Homo sapiens: one gene and its partners. The protein of the gene in region 4 purifies or fractionates together with the protein of the main gene of each other region. This does not show direct contact. Each region holds a gene or a part of one and is shown on either strand. Other genes may lie near its edges.

Region 1 (3,500 bases), on a different chromosome or scaffold from region 4:
CCAACCTGGGAAACATGGTGAAACCCCGTCTCTACTAAAAATACAAAAATCAGCGGCGCATGGTGGTGGGCGCCTGTAGTCCCAGCTACTCAGGAAACTGAGGCAAGAGAACTGCTTGAACCCAGGAGGCAGAGGTTGCAGTGAGCTGAGATTGCGCCACTGCACTCCAGTCTGGGTGACAGAGCGAGACTCCATCTCAAAAAAAAAAAAAAAAAAAAGGCAGCATCTGCAAACCAGCAAAAGAGGCCTCTCCTGGAATCAGCACTGACAGCATCTTGCTCTTGGCCTTCAAGCCTCCAGAACTGCGAGAGTGAATTTCTACTGCTCCCCACTCAGTCTGGAGTATTTTGTTATGGCAGCCTAACCAGGCTGATACGCTCCTACATTGCTGGTGGGAATGTATGGCCACTCAAGAAAACAATCTGGCAGTTTTCTAACAAACTAAACACATAATTACCACACATGAACCAGCAACTGCACTCTTAAACATTTATCCCAGAAATGAAAACGTATATTCACACAAAAACCTATACGCAAGTGTCACAGCAGCTTTATCTGTAGTAGCCAAAACAGGAAACAGCCCAGATGTCCTTCCACGGGTGGCTGGCTGGGCAAGCCGTGCACACTCACGCAGAGGAGTCTCACCACGGGAAACAAGCTACTGACACACAATTACCTGAAGAATTCTGCACTTCCCCTTACACTGCATCCTTCGAATGACAAAATCACAGACAGAGCAAAGACTAGAGGTTTCCAGAGGGTAAGGAAATGGCGTGGCTGAGAGGTGGCATGAGGGCTCCCTACGGGGATGGAGACTTCCACAGCCTCACCTGCACCAGGGTTAGCATCCCGACCGTCACCACTGGGGAAACCAGGCAAGGGTCTAAAATAGAAAAGATCTCCATCTTTTCTCACAGCCGCGTGGGAACCTACAATGAACTCAAAATAATACAGTTTATTTAAAAATAATAGTAACGTATAAGACATTAAAGAATGGCATGTCGGGTACCTCCAAGACCCTGTTATATACATTTTACAGCACACACTCTGCCAATTAAGGAACAGGCACAGGCCAGGCACAGTGGCTGACACCTGCAATCCCAGCACTTTGGGAGGCCGAGGTGGGAGAATCACTTGAGCCCAGGAGTTCTGAGAACAGCCTACAGGCAACATAACAAGACTCCATCTCTACCAGAAATAAATTAAAAATTAGCCAGGCGTGGTGGTGCGTGCCTGTGGTCCCAGCTACCTGGGAGGCTGAGGTGGGAGGATCGCTTGAGTCCGGGAGTTCAAGACTGTGGTGAGCTGTGATCATGCCACTGCACTCCAGCCTGGGCAACAAAGCAAGACCTCATCTCAAGGGCAGGGAGTGGAGGGGTGGGGAGTGGAGGCACAGAGACATCAAATGCTCAAGCCAGGTCAAATCTCAAGGCCCAGGTTCCCTGAGGCAGCCTGGCCTGGGACAGCAGAGTGACCACAGCTAAGGCTTGCCTTCTCTTTCTCACATAAATTATATAAATATATAAACATAAGACCTGTATCCAGAGTAAGCAGAAACTCCCTGCCCAATAAAAAATGGACAAAAAGGCCAGGCGCCGTGGCTCATGCCTGTAATCCCAGCACTTTGGGAGGCCAAGGCCGGCGGGTGACCTGAGGTCAGGAGTTTGAGACCAGCCTGACCAACATAGTGACACCCCATTTCTACTAAAAAATACAAAATTAGCTGGGCATGGTGGTGCATGCCTTTAATCCCAGCTAGTTGGGAGGCTGAGGCAGGAGAATTGTTTGAACCTGGGAGGTGGAGCTTGCCGTGAGCCAAGATGGAGCCACTGCACTCCAGCCTGGGCAAGACTCCCTCTCAAAAAAAAAAAAAAAAAAAAATTGCTGAACATCATCATCAGGGAAATTCCAATGAAATCACAATGAGATCGACACCACTGCACACTCACAAGAATGGATGTAATCAAAATGAGAGACCACAAGAAATGCTGGTGAGGAAGTGGAGAGCCAGGAACTCTCCACTGCAGCTGGTGGAAATGTAAAATGGTGCAGCTACCGTGGAAGGAGGTTTGGTTGTTTCATGTGAAGTTCAACCTAAATCCAACCTGTAAATCAGCAATCCTACTCCTTGGTATTTTTTACCCAAGACAAAGAAAAACACACGTCCACAAAAAGACTTGAAAAAAAATGTTCTCGGCACCTTTATTCATAACAGCGGATACGGTTTGGATCTTTATTCATAACAGCGGACACGGTTTGGATCTTTATTCATAACAGCACATACGGTTTGGATCTGCGTCCCCATGCAAATCTCATGTTCACTTGTGACCCTCAATGTTGGAGGAGGGGCCTGGTGGGAGGTGACCGGATTATGGGGCGGAGTTCCCCATGGCGTGGCTGCTCTCAGGATAGTGAGATCTGACTGGGCCATGGGTGTGGAGTTCCTCCCGGGGCTGCTCTCAGGATAGTGAGTGCTCTCCTGTGAGATCTGATTGGGTCGTGGGGGTGGAGTTCCCCCGGGGGGCTGCTCTCAGGATAGTGAGTGCTCTCCTGTGAGATCTGATTGGGTTGTGGTGGTGGAGTTCCCCCAGGGGCTGCTCTCAGGATAGTGAGTGCTCTCCTGTGAGATCTGATTGGGTCATGGGGGTGGAGTTCTGCCCGGGGGCTGCTCTCAGGAGGAGGTTGCCAGGATCTGAGATCACACCCCTGTACTACAGCCTGGGCAACACAACAAGACTCTATCTCAAAAAAATAAGAATAAAAAAATAACAGGCACAGGATATGAATGTGCAATGCCAGAAGGGGAGGCTGAGCAGCAAATAAGCATTACCAAACTCGCTACTCAGAAAGGCACAAATCAAAGCTTGACACTTTTTAAACCCATCAAAATGTCCAAATAAAACAAACCCCCAGGGGACACTCTGAGGACTTGGGACACTAGAGTCTGGTGCCCCCGAGCAGCCTGCAGGCCCCATGAGCAGAGCTGGGCAACCTTCCCCCACACAGCCCACCAGCGTCCATGCAAAGGGCTGAGGACACCTCTCACCAGGATGCGTGTAGGATGCACGGAGCACGCTGGGGACGGGACAGAGTGCCGGGGGACAGTGAGGTCAGTACAGGACCACTACAGGCAGATCTGAGTATCTTTTTTAATCAACTCGGCCTCTTTTAAGAAACAGACACTTTTCTAACGTAAAATACCACATACCAACATTTTCAATACACACATAATTCACAACACTACAGAATGAATCTGTGTCCCCTCCAAAATTCCTGTGTGAAATCCTAATACCCAAGGTGATGGTGTTAGGAGGTGGGGCCTCCTTGGGGGTGACTAGGCCATGAAGGTGGAGCCCTCAGGACTGGGATTACTGCCCCAGAGAGCACTCCCTCACCCCTTCTGCCCTGTGAGGACACAGCGAGAAGGTGCTGGACCTCACCAGACACCAGATCTGCCGGCGCCTTGCGCCTGGACTTCCAGCCTGCAGAGCCGTGAGGAA
Region 2 (3,500 bases), on a different chromosome or scaffold from region 4:
TGGGAATGTATAAGAATGTGAGTGTGTGGTAAGTGTGATTGGGCCAGTGTGAAAATGTGTGATGTACGAGTGGGGGATGGTGTGTGAGGGGGTACACATGTGCATGTACACGAATGTGGAGGAGTGCTTGTCTGTGGGAATAAGGGCGTGTATAATTTTGAGTGTACAGTCGTGAATGTGAAAGTGAGTGAATATGTGAGTGTTAAGTACATGTGCAGTATGTATGTTTATGTGAATTTGTATGAGTACTGAATGTGAATAAGCCTATATATGTGTCAGTCAATGTGACTATACCTGTGTGTGTAAGTGATTGTGCTTGAGTTTGAGAGGGTAGAGTGACGGTTTTCAGTGAAAATGGCTGAGTTTATAAAAATATGTGTGTATGGTTGTATTTCAGTGTATGTGCCTGCAAGTTTGGTATAGAGTGTGATGATGTCTCAGTGTGAAGAAAGTGAGTGTGTGAGTGTGAATGTGTGGCAAAATGTGTGTTTCTATGTATGAATGTGATTATGTGTGAATGTATCAGGAGTAGGGAGGTTGTTTTAGCTCTGTGTATGTGAATGCAAAAGTGTGTAATTCTAAGTGTAAAAGTGCAAGTGGGTGAGATGGTGCTTATGATGTGAGAAAATATAAACGTGGATATATGAGCATGTATGCACGTTTGTGTCCCTGTGATAAGTTTGTGACTGTGAGGAAGAAACAGTGATGACATCAATGCAAGTACACTGGAGTGTATGAAATTGAGTGTATGAATGGCTGTGAGTATAAGAAACAGTTGGAGTGTGTGCAGGGGGAATGTCAATGTATTATTTGTGTATAGAGTATGTATGACTATACAGGAATTTGGGCAGGCAAAGGTGATTGTATCCTCTGTGTGAATGTAAGTGTGAAAGTGTATGATTGTGTGTGTGTGTGAGAATATGATATTAATAGCACAAAGGTGTGAGTGTCTGTGAACATGAGGGTGGGGTGTATGGTAAGTGTGTTGTGTGCATCAATATGAAAATGTGAATACGTGAATGTGAATTTGTGGCAGTGTGAATGTACCTAAATGTAGCATGTATGTAAATATGATTGTGTGTGAGGGTGAGGGCATAAGAGTGATCATCATTTTGAATGACTCCAGTATGAAAAGTGAGTGAGCCCAGGGGATGATGTGACTGTGTGAATGTACAAGAGTACAAGAATGTGCTTGTGAGAGTATGTATGTGTATGTGCATGAACTAAAGATACCAAAATAACTTTGGATGCTGGGAAACTCTCTCCAGGAAGTCTCTTTCTTCCCAAAGCCACAGCATGTCTTCTGTTACAGGCAAGTTACTTAGCTTCTCTCAGCCTCTATCTCCTCCTTGGTAAAACAGTAATGATGATAATACCTAACTTCAGCTAGTATCACTTGTATAATCAGAAACAGCAATAACTATTAGAAAAAAAAATACCTACCTTGCAAGATTATCATAGGAGAAAATGGTATCATGCCAGTAAAGAGCCTAGCACAGAGCTGGCAACAGTAGACAATAAATACAAGTTATTATTGCATCTGTCACAGAACACCAAAGAGCGATTCAGGGGCTTCTCATTTTAGTCAGTCCTAGTTACCTTCTGTCCGTCAAGGCCTAAAGAGGATCCCCTACCAGAACATCGCTAGAAAGTTGAATGCATCAGTATCAACAAGGCTGTAATTTCATACCTTCAATTCCATGGCTGAAACTCTGGAGCTTCCCTTTCATAAGAAGGCATCACAGAAACACCTGCTGCTGAGCTGCAGTTTTACCTTGTCTGTAGGCGCATTGTATGCTCAGTGTGAAAGGGAACTACATTGCTTATTCCTTGCTTGTTTTTTGTTTAGTTTTTCTGTTTTTTTTTTTTAATTTTGTTGGTTGTTTTTTGATTTGGGTAATAGGAGAGATGCCTAAGCAACTGATAGACAGAAGACCAGACAGAGGGACAGCAAGCTACAAGCAGGTAGCTGGACTGCAGGGAATAGCAACAGAGGCCAGATGGAGAAGCTGACAGAAGAAGTTATAATGCCTGCCTGAAAGGCAGACAAAAAAACAAATAGATGATCGGAGAGACAGGCCATGAAACCTGAAAGAAATGCAGAGGAAGAGAGAGAGGCCCAACTTGCAAAGCTGCTGGGGAACTTTTGAGCCCTTTTAAGGGAGACTAGAGATCTGTAAGATCTAGTCCCTGCCCTTGAAGAGCTTACAATCTAGTTTTCCTGGTAAGATGAATACTCCAGAAACCATGCAAGACTTATTTAAGGCAGTAGGGCAGCAAGTGCTACCCTGCACGCTACAGACTCAAGTGCTGTTGGAGACCTGGTGGAGGAAGTGCATCTTGGTTGGGTGGGAAAGCAGAGGGAAGGTTTGGGAAGGTTTAAGCTAAGTCTGACAGGCCCAGAAGCAGGGATGGAAGGGGTGGGGGTACACTTCAAACAGGAAGGTAAAATTAAGGTTATGGGGCAGTAGAAATCATAGGAACTGAATGGCAAATTTGCAGCATGTGGCTGAAAAGCCACCCAGGCACCAGGAAAGGAGGAGAAAAGAAAATGACAGCTTGATGGGAAGCATGTCTGTGTTATACTGAAGCTCTTAGATGGTGCTTGACATCTGCAACGGACTTGGCAACGATTGTTATGTTGTTTCTCCTCCTCACCCCAAAATGTAGGTCAAGGCTGTCATTCCCATATTAGAGATGGGAGGGAGGCAAGAGACTAAAGGCAGCTGTACTGGGCAAAATTCCCCAGAACATAGGGGTCATGCCCTGAGGCCTAGCTCACGAGGTCTAGGCAGAGTCTTTGATATTGGGAGATCTGGTGGAAAAGCAGCATTTGCCTGGATTTGGAGATCCCTAACTCCCTGCCCTGGACTCCATTACTCACCTCACACCGCCACCGCTGCAGGACTTCAGCACAGGTGGGCACTGCCCATGAGAAGGGTCCGGGCTGGCTTCAGCTCCTACAGACTCAGTGCTGGGCACACCAGCTGCCACAAGATGCAAGGACTCAGCTGCTCTTTCTTGGGGGAAACCTGCTGAGAGAAGCATTGTAGGGGAGAGGGAACCTCTTTCCCCACCTGCTACTGCTCCCTCATCCAACTCCCACCAAACATCTCTCTCTCTCTCTCTCTCTCACACACACACACATACTCTCTCTCTCATACACACACACACACACACTCTCTCTCTCTCTTTCTCAATCTCTCTGGTGAATTTCAGAATATCTCTTAAGAAAGCTAGAAAATCAGAGGGCTAAGAAGTGTAAAAAGGCATTGTTACATAGGATTCCAGAAAGGGCACGGAAGTGGGAGTCAGGAGTTGGGAGTTACAAGCTGAGAATTGCTGTTAGTCACCTCATCATTCTGGGCCTGCTTAGTATCAAGTGAAAAGGCCTGCCTTAGTTGACTTGGGTAAGTGTTGGAAGAACTAAATCAAATAGGACAGATGTGAAATATTTACATAGTCTGCATAATTATGGAGCAATGTGTATAATCACAGGA
Region 3 (3,500 bases), on a different chromosome or scaffold from region 4:
CAGGGTTGGCCGGGCGCCAGCCAGACGGAAGCCACAGACATGTGGGTCTGGCTCGCCGGGCCCCTGCCCCGCCTGCTGGCTGCCCCCCAGCCCCCCGGACTCCCTGTTTGTCCTCAGCCAGGCCAGGAAGGTGCCATCTGGCCTGCGAGCAGGGCTTTGTCCTCGGCTGAGGGGAGAAGGGGTTCAAGGGCCGTGTCTGGGCTGGGGACAGGCCCCTCCTTGTGGCGGGGCGGCTGGGGCCCTGTGCTTTGCCGTTTGACCCGGCCCACGGCGCGGGCAGCATGCGGAGGAGGGCGGCAGGCCTGGGCTGTTGGTAGTTTGACCCTGGGTGCTGTCCTCAGGTCGAGGTCTGTCCTCCAGCCCTCTTCTGACTCTGGCCACCCAAGGCTGGGTGATGATTGAAGCCCCTGGCTGTCGTCTCCCTCCTGCCCTGGAGGCCTCCCCACCAGCCTGGGAGGGGGAGTCCAGGTACCCCGGGTGCCTGAGCAGGCGAGGCCCCTGTTCTGGGCATCCAGAGACCCACTAGCTTTAGGCCTGGTGTTCATTGGGGTGCTACTTGGATGCTGGGGGGCCAGGGGCCACTCCGTCTTGTTAAGTCCATCCCAGACCCTAGGAACAGGGTGTGTCCTTCCTCGTGCTCCGTTCCTCAGATGTTTGGCCCTATGCCAGGCAGGGTAGGGGCGTGAGGCAGGATCTAGAAGCCCAGCCTGGAAATAGCCTCACGGGGCTGGGGTAGGCAGGCCAGCCTGGCAACACACCTGCCATGTCCGGGCCCCCACCCTGCTGGTGCGTCCCCCACATGCCCGTGCACAGCTGTGCCATCAACTCTGCTGCCCTGTGAGTCCCCCGCATGCCCGTTCATAGCCGTGCCATCAACTCTGCTGTCCTCTGAGCAGGTGCCGTGACGGGCACATGCCATTGATGTGTGCACGAGGCACGACAGGATGGCCAGGTCTCCCAAGGTCAGGTTGGCCCCTCGGCCACTCCCCCACTACCCCGGTTGCTGACACCGGCTGGAGACCCCAAGGCCAGGCGCTGGCTCCTCAATAGGAAGTTCCCGGCCCCACGCAGGGCGTCAGTGCCCATGTGTACCTCCCACCCTCGAGACCAGCACCCTGGAGAGGCAGGTCAGAAGTCGTGAACCCAGGAGGACCCTACAGAGAAGGGGGGCCGGGGCTCAGCCCGCGGGAAGGGAGCAGATGCTGCCTCTCATTGAAGATTCCAGGCGGCGGCGGCGGCGGCGGCTCCTCCAGTTAATCCTCGCTGACTGTCTCCTGGAGGGTGGAGAGAGGGGAGGCGCCGGCCCGGGCTGCCTGCACTGCCTCTGCGCGGGTGCCATGTGCTGCTGCCGGGTCACCGTCTGCCGCTATGAAGATGGATGGGCCCAGGAAGAGGGGCTGGCGGGTCAGGGACACAGGCACGGCCCCTGGGAGACAGATGCTTCTCCACGGTGGGGCAGGTCTCAGAGCCCCTGGGCCATCATTCCTGCTGATCTTGTGGGGAGACGGCCATGGCCTCCTTGTTTTTTGGGTGTTTGGCATTTCGTGGCTCAGGGAGGCAGAGCGGGGCTGGTGCTCTTCAGGAGCACTGCCCGCTGATCAGCAGTCGTTACCTGACATGGCCAGATGGAACGTGAGGAAGGGCCGGGTTCCCGTGGCTCTGCATCCCTGGGAAGCTCAGAGGGGCCAGCGTGGCCATGGCTCTCAGACACCCCCAGGTCAGGGTAGGCCTGGGCAGTGCTGTCCCCACATGGGGAAGATGCTGGGGCTGAGAACGGCTGCCCCAGTGACAGAGTGACGCCTGGGTTGGCAGCCATCCAGAGTCCAGAGCACAGCCCCCATCTGGGCCGCCCTGAGGCTCCCTCCGCCCCCCTCCTCCCCCCTCCTCCCCCCTCCCCCTCCTCCTCCTCCTCCCCCCTCCTCCTCCTCCTCCTCCTACCCCCTCCTCCTCCTCCTCCTCCTCCTACCCCCTCCTCCTCCTCCTACCCCCTCCTCCTCCTCCTCCCACTTAGTCACACGAATAACAGGAACAAGCAAGGCCTTTTCATGCTCTGGTTTCTCCGGGCTGGACCCTGCGTGTGTGCGGGGCAGCCTCTGCGTGGCTAGGGGTGGCACGGCCTATCCTTGAACTTGGCAGGGACCTCAGCCCGGAAGGTGGGCTTTGGGCCACTGCCTCCTCCTGCTTTGTGCCTGGAGAAGACCCCTCATCTGAGTCCTCTGGACCACCTTCCCAGCTACACCCAGGTCCACTGTGTCCAGGAGCCTGGGACAGGCGAGCTGTTGCCTTCCCTGCCCCACCGTGTGTGTGAAGGCCGGTACCCCAGCTGGCCAGTCAGGGCCCAGCTGCTGCCTGTTCTGGTGGGCTCCAGGGCCAGGGCCACCCCAGGAGGTGGTTGGGGGCAGACCAGCACCTTCGGCCCAGGGGCAGTGCCAGCTTCCTTTGCCCCTGCCCTCCACGTGGGCACCAGGGCCAGGACATCTGCGGCCAGGTGGGCAGCTGTCGGCGCAGTTGACGTCTTGGCTACATCGTGGCACTCGCTTCACGGCGTGCTGGGTGCCAACGGTGTCTGCTTCCCCGGGTGTGTGTCTGGTGTGACCTTCGGATGTCCACACCAGGAGGGGTGGAGGCAGGAGCCCCTGCCACCCTGCATCCTTCACCTGCACACATTGTGTTTCTGGGGGGTTCTAGTTCTTTTGCTGGACTGAGGAGGCCCAGGGAGGGAGACGGATCCCGAGACGCACTTCACCCCAGACCTGTCGCAGCCACATCCCCTTTCTTACGGTTCTGCTTCCCACACCACATGCACCATGTTTTGCGTAGAAAGCCTTAGGGAAAGGATGTTTCTAGAACATGAACTAAATCTAGCGCCTTCCCGTGAGTCAGGAGACCTGGCTGTGTCCTGTGGTCAGTGGCCTATACCAGGCTCCTGCCCTGACTGGACGCTCTCCTCCCGCAGGATGCCGGCTCCAGGAGCAGCAGTGGAGGTCGGGAACGCCTCATTGTGGAGCCCCCGCTCCCTCAGGAGAAGGCAGGGGGACCAGCCATCCCCTCGCACCTGCTCAGCACCCCCTACCCCTTCGGCCTCTCCCCCAGCTCAGTTGTGCAGGATTCCCGCTTCCCGCCACTCAAGTAAGTTGGTCGGCGGGGACTTCGGTGAGGTGGCCAGGTGGGGACACAGTGCTCAGGGTCTGGGTCCCCAGGCAGCCTGCGGTCTGCACAGATGAGGCTGTGCCTGCTAGATGGTTGTCGGCCGCTGAGCCCTGGGGATTGCAGCCCTGTCTGTGCCCCTTCACACTGAGGTGGCAGTGGCAGCTCGCTCCCCCCGCTGCTTAAGCCCCGTCCTCGTTCGGGGTGCCAGGAGTCTGGGTGCCGACTGAGCGCCAGGGGTGATGCAGGGAGTTTAGCCGTCCCCCCATGCAGGAGCAGGTGTGCACTCACCTGTCCCCACCTTGCCCACTATCCCCGCCTGCAGCCTCCAGCGGCCCGTGCACCACGTGGTG
Region 4 (5,111 bases):
AAAAAAAAAAAAAACAGTAAACAAAATAGAAAAGGTCCCTGTATGAAAACATACCTTATATTGGCCGGGCGCAGTGGCTCACGCCTGTAATCCCAACACTTAGGGAGGCCAAGGCAGACGGATCATGAGGTCAGGAGATCAAGACCATCCTGGCTAACACGGTGAAACCCTGTCTCTACTAAAAATACAAAAAATTAGCCGGGCGTGGTGGCATGTGCCTGTAGTCCCAGCTACTTGGGAGGCTGAGGCAGGAGAATTGCTTGAACTGGGAAGCAGAGGTTGCAGTGAGCAGAGATCGCACCACTGCACTACTGTCTAGGCGACAGGGCGAGACACTGCCTCAAAAAAAAAAAAAAAAGAAAAGAAAAGAAAAGAAAGAAAATATACCTTATATTCTACAAAGAGAAAGATAAAAGATAAATAAGCTAAATAAGTAACTTCAGATAAAGTGCCATGAAGAAAATAAAGCCAGAGAAATAAGACATTAAGTGACTTGGAAGAGAAACAGTTTGGAAAAGAGTAGAAACTTTTCTTGGCCAGGCATAGTGGCTCACACCTATAATCCCAACACTTTGGGAGGCCGAGACGGGTAGATCACCTGAGGTCAGGAGTTCGAGACCAGCCTGACCAACATGGACAAACCCCGCCTCTACTAAAAATACAAAAATTAGCTGGGCGTGGTGGCGCATGCCAGTAATCCCAGCTAATCGGGAGGCTGAGGCAGGAGAATCGTTTGAACCCAGGAAACGGAGGTTGCGGTGAGCCGAGATCACGCCATTGCACTCCAGCCTGGGCAACAAGAGTGAAACTCCATCTCAAAAAATAAAAACAAATAAATAAATAAAGTTTTCTCTAAGGTGTTATTTGAGCAAAGATCTGAATTATGAGAATGAACCAAACATGCTAAGATCTGGGGCAAGAATACTCTAGGCAGAGGGCAGCAAGTATACAGACTCAAAACAAGCTTGACATGTTTCAGGAACAGAAGAAAAGCCAATGTGACCGAGTATTGATGATAAACGAGGAAGAAGGTAAGAAATGAGGGACTTTGTAAGGCTGGATGAGGTTCAGAATCTATTTACAATGCAATGGGGAAGTCAGTTCAGGATTGTGAGCAAGGAAGCGACATGAACAGACATTTTTAAAAATCTGGCCAGGGCTGAACACAGTGGCTCATGCCCATAATCCCAGCACTCTGGGAGGCCAAGGTAGGTGGATCTCTTGAGGTCAGGAGTTTGAGACCAGCCTGACCAACATGTTGAAACCCGGTCTCCACTAAAAATACAAAAATTAGGCCGGGCGCAGTGACTCACACCTGTAATCTCAACACTTTGGGAGGCCGAGGCAGGCAGATCACCTTAGGTCGTGAGTTCAAGGCCAGCCTGAGCGACGTGCTGAAATCCCATCTCTACTAAAAAAATACGAAGAAAATTAGCTGGGTGTGGTGGTGCATGCCTGTAGTCCCAGCTACTTGGGAGGCTGAGGAATGAGAATTGCTTGAACTCAGGAGGCCGAGGTTGCAGTGAGCCAGGATGGTGCCACTGCACTCCAGCCTGGGCAACAGAAAAAGCCTCCGTCTCAAAAAATAACAAAGAAAAAATCACTCTGGCTGCCCTGTGGTAAAAGAACATCAGAGCAGCATGAGTGGAAATGGAGGGGCAAAATCAAAGGCTACTGTAGTAGTTTAAACAAGAAATAATGGTGGTTCGGACTTCACAGGGAGCAATTGAGATAACAAGAAATGATCACATTCTTGATATATTTTGAAGATAAAACTGGCCAGAAGCAGTGGCTCATACCTGTAATCCTAGCACTTTGGAAAGCAGAGGCAGGCAGATTGTTTGAGGCCAGGAATTCAAGACTAGCCTGGGCAACATGACAAAACCCCATCTCTACAAAAAAATTAGGTGTGGTGAAGCAGGCCTGTAGTCCCAGCTACTCTGGAGGCTTTGGTGGAAGAATCACTTGAGCCCAGGAGATTGAGGCTGCAATGAGCTGTAATAACACCACCGCACTCCAGCCTGGGCTACAGGGCAAGACACTGTCTCCAAAAAAAAAAAAAAAATATATATATATATATGTGTGTATAAATAAAACGAACAGAATTGGATATAGGACTTTAAGGAAAAAGAAGAATCAAGGATGACTCCTTGGGTTTTGTGTAAATGCAACAGGGTAAATGGGAGTGTTATTAGTAGAAACGGGAAAGACTGGGGAAATCAGGTCTGAGGAGGAAACCAAGAGTTTCATTTTGGACTAATTAAGTTGAGAGACTATTAGCTTTCCAAATGGAAGTTTTGAACAGGCAGATTTTACAAGCATCCCTCAGAGATATTGCAAGTTCTGTTCCAGACCAACACAACAAAGCAAACACCACAATGAAGCAAGTCACACAAAATTTTTGGTTTCCCAGTGCATATAGAAGTTATGTTTACACTGTATTACAGTCTATTAAGTGTGCAATAGCATTATGTCTTTTTAAAAAATGGGTGCCTTGCCAGGCATGGTGGCTCGCACCTGTAATCCCAGCACTTTGGGAGGCCAAGGTGGGTGGATCACCTGAGGTCAGGAGTTCAAGACCAGCCTGACCAACATAGTGAAACCCCATCGCTACTAAAAATACAAAAATTAGCCGGGCATGGTGGCACATGCCTATAATCCCAGCTACTCGGAGGCTGAGGCAGGAGAATCGCTTGAAACCGGGAGGCAGAGGTTGTGGTGAGCCGAGATCACACCATTGCATTCCAGCCAGGGCAACAAGAGCGAAACTCCATCTCAAAAAAAAAAAAAAAAAAAAAAAAATTGGGTGCCTTAAAAAATACTTTATTGTAGGCCAGGAGTGGTGGCTCATGCCTGTAATCCCAACACTTTGGGAGGCCAAGGTGGAGGGATCATCTGAGATCAAGAGTTTGATACCACCCTGGTCAACATGATGAAATCTCGTCTCTACTAAAAAAATACAAAAATGGCCGGGCGTGGTAGCTCACACCTGTTATCCCAGCACTTTGAGGGGCCGAGGCGGGTGGATCACAAGGTCAGGAGTTCAAGACCAGCCTGGCCAATATGGTGAAACCCCATCTCTACTAAAAATACAAAAATTAGCTGGGTGTGGTGGCGGGTGCCTGTAGTCCCAGCTACTCGGGAGGCTGAGGCAGGACAATCACTTGAACCCAGGAGGCGGAAGTTGCAAGTGAGCCAAGATCACACCACTGCACTTCAGCCTGGGTGACAGAGCAAGACTCCATCCCCCACAAAAAATACTTTATTGTTAAAAAAACACTAACAAGCCATCATCGAAATCATGAGTAAGTCATAATCTTTTCTCTGGCTGGAGGGCCTTGCCTCAATAAGGATGCCTGCTGACTGATCAAGGTATTGGTTGCTGAAGGCTGGGGTAGCTGTGAAAATTTCCTAAAATAAGACAGTAATAAAGTTTGCCGTATCGACTGATTCTTCCTTTTATGAAAAATTTCTCTGGAGTACATGATATTGTTTGATAGCATTTTACACACAGCAGAACATCCTTCGATATTGGAGGCAATGCTCTCAAACCTTGCTACTGCTTTATCAACTAAGTTTATGGAATATTCAAAATCCTTTTTCAACAATGTTCACAGTAGATTCCATCTCAAGAAACCACTTTCTCTGGTCGTCCACCATAAGAAGCAACTCCTTATCTGATCAAGTTTTATCAAGAGACTGTAGCAACTCAGTTACACCTTCTGGCTCCACTTCTAATTCTAGTTTGCTACTACCACTGTATTTGCAGTTAATTCCTCCATTGAAATCTTGAACCTCTCTCCAAGTCATCCATTAAGGTTGGAATCAGCTTCTTCCAAACTCCTGTTAATGTTGATATTCTGACCTCCCATGAATTATAAATGTTCTTCACGACAGGCAGAATGGTGAATCATTTCCAGAAGGTTTTCTTTTTTCTTTTTTTTTTTTGAGACAGAGTCTTGCTCTGTCGCCCAGGCTGGAGTGCAGCGGCTAGATCTCAGCTCACTGCAAGCTCCGCCTCCCAGGTTCACGCCATTCTCCTGCCTCAGCCTCCCAAGTAGCTGAGACTACAGGCACCTGCCACCACACCTGGCTAATTCTTTGTATTTTTAGTAGAGATGGGGTTTCACCATGTTAGCCAGGATGGTCTTGATCTCCTGACCTTGTGATCCGCCCACCTTGGCCTCCCAAGATGCTAGGATTACAGGCGTGAGCCACCGCGCCCAGCCCATTTCCAGAAGGTTTTCAATCTACTTTGCCCAGATGCATCAGACGAATCACTATCTATGACATCCATAGCCTTATGAAATGCATTTCTTAAATAACACATTTAAGACTGTAAAGTCGAAATTACTCCTTGATCCATCACGGGCTACAGAACAGATCCTGTGTTAACAGGCATAAAAACAAGATTAATCGGCTGGGCATGGTGGCTCACGCCTGTAATCCCAGCACTTTGGGAGGCCAAGGCAGGCGGATCACCAGGTCAGGAGATCCAGACCACCCTGGCTAACACGGTGAAACCCCATCTCTACTAAAAATACAAAAAATTAGCCAGGTGTGGTGGCAGGCACCTGTAGTCCCAGCTACTTGGGAGGCTGAGGCAGGAGAATGGCATGAACCTGGGAGGCAGAGCTTGCAGTGAGCTGAGATCGAGTCACTACACTCCAGCCTGGGTGATAGAACAAGACTCCGTCTCAAAAAAAAACAAGATTAATCTTCTTATATATCTCCATCAGAGCTCTTGGGTGAATTCATGCATTGTCAATGAACAGTAATACTTTGAGTCTTTTTCTTTTGGGGCAGTAGGTCTCAAAAATGGGCTTAAAATACTCAGTAAACCATACTGTAAACAGATGTGCCGTTATCCAGGCTTTGTTGTTCCATTTATAGAGCTCATGCAAAGAAGATCTAGCATAATTCTTACGGGCCCTCAGATTTTCGGAATGGGAAATGGGCATTGGCTTCAACTTAAAGTCATCAGCTGCATTAGCCCCCTCTAACAATAATGTCAGCCTCTCCTCTGAAGATTTAAAGCCAGGCACTGACTTCTCCTCTCTAGCTATGTAACTCCTACATGGCATCTTCTTCCAATATAAGGCTATTTCATC

The links. The genes of interacting proteins can lie anywhere in the genome.
Region 1: the proteins of EEF1AKMT2 (region 4) and GAK purify together in Homo sapiens (affinity purification with mass spectrometry; one large-scale study listed by BioGRID and IntAct). This does not show direct contact.
Region 2: the proteins of EEF1AKMT2 (region 4) and PAK3 purify together in Homo sapiens (affinity purification with mass spectrometry; one large-scale study listed by BioGRID and IntAct). This does not show direct contact.
Region 3: the proteins of EEF1AKMT2 (region 4) and GSE1 purify together in Homo sapiens (affinity purification with mass spectrometry; one large-scale study listed by BioGRID and IntAct). This does not show direct contact.

What each region holds. Positions count from the first base shown.
Region 1 is NC_000004.12:922,317-925,816, forward strand, and holds part of GAK (cyclin-G-associated kinase), read right to left. Parts: intron 1-3,500. UniProt on the Homo sapiens protein: Associates with cyclin G and CDK5. Seems to act as an auxilin homolog that is involved in the uncoating of clathrin-coated vesicles by Hsc70 in non-neuronal cells. Expression oscillates slightly during the cell cycle, peaking at G1.
Region 2 is NC_000023.11:111,102,691-111,106,190, reverse strand, and holds part of PAK3 (serine/threonine-protein kinase PAK 3), read right to left. Parts: intron 3,036-3,500; exon of another isoform or gene 3,033-3,035; 5' UTR 2,885-3,032; intron 1-2,884. UniProt on the Homo sapiens protein: Serine/threonine protein kinase that plays a role in a variety of different signaling pathways including cytoskeleton regulation, cell migration, or cell cycle regulation.
Region 3 is NC_000016.10:85,651,322-85,654,821, forward strand, and holds part of GSE1 (genetic suppressor element 1), read left to right. Parts: intron 1-2,956; coding exon 2,957-3,129; intron 3,130-3,472; coding exon 3,473-3,500.
Region 4 is NC_000010.11:124,767,170-124,772,280, forward strand, and holds part of EEF1AKMT2 (EEF1A lysine methyltransferase 2), read right to left. Parts: intron 1-5,111.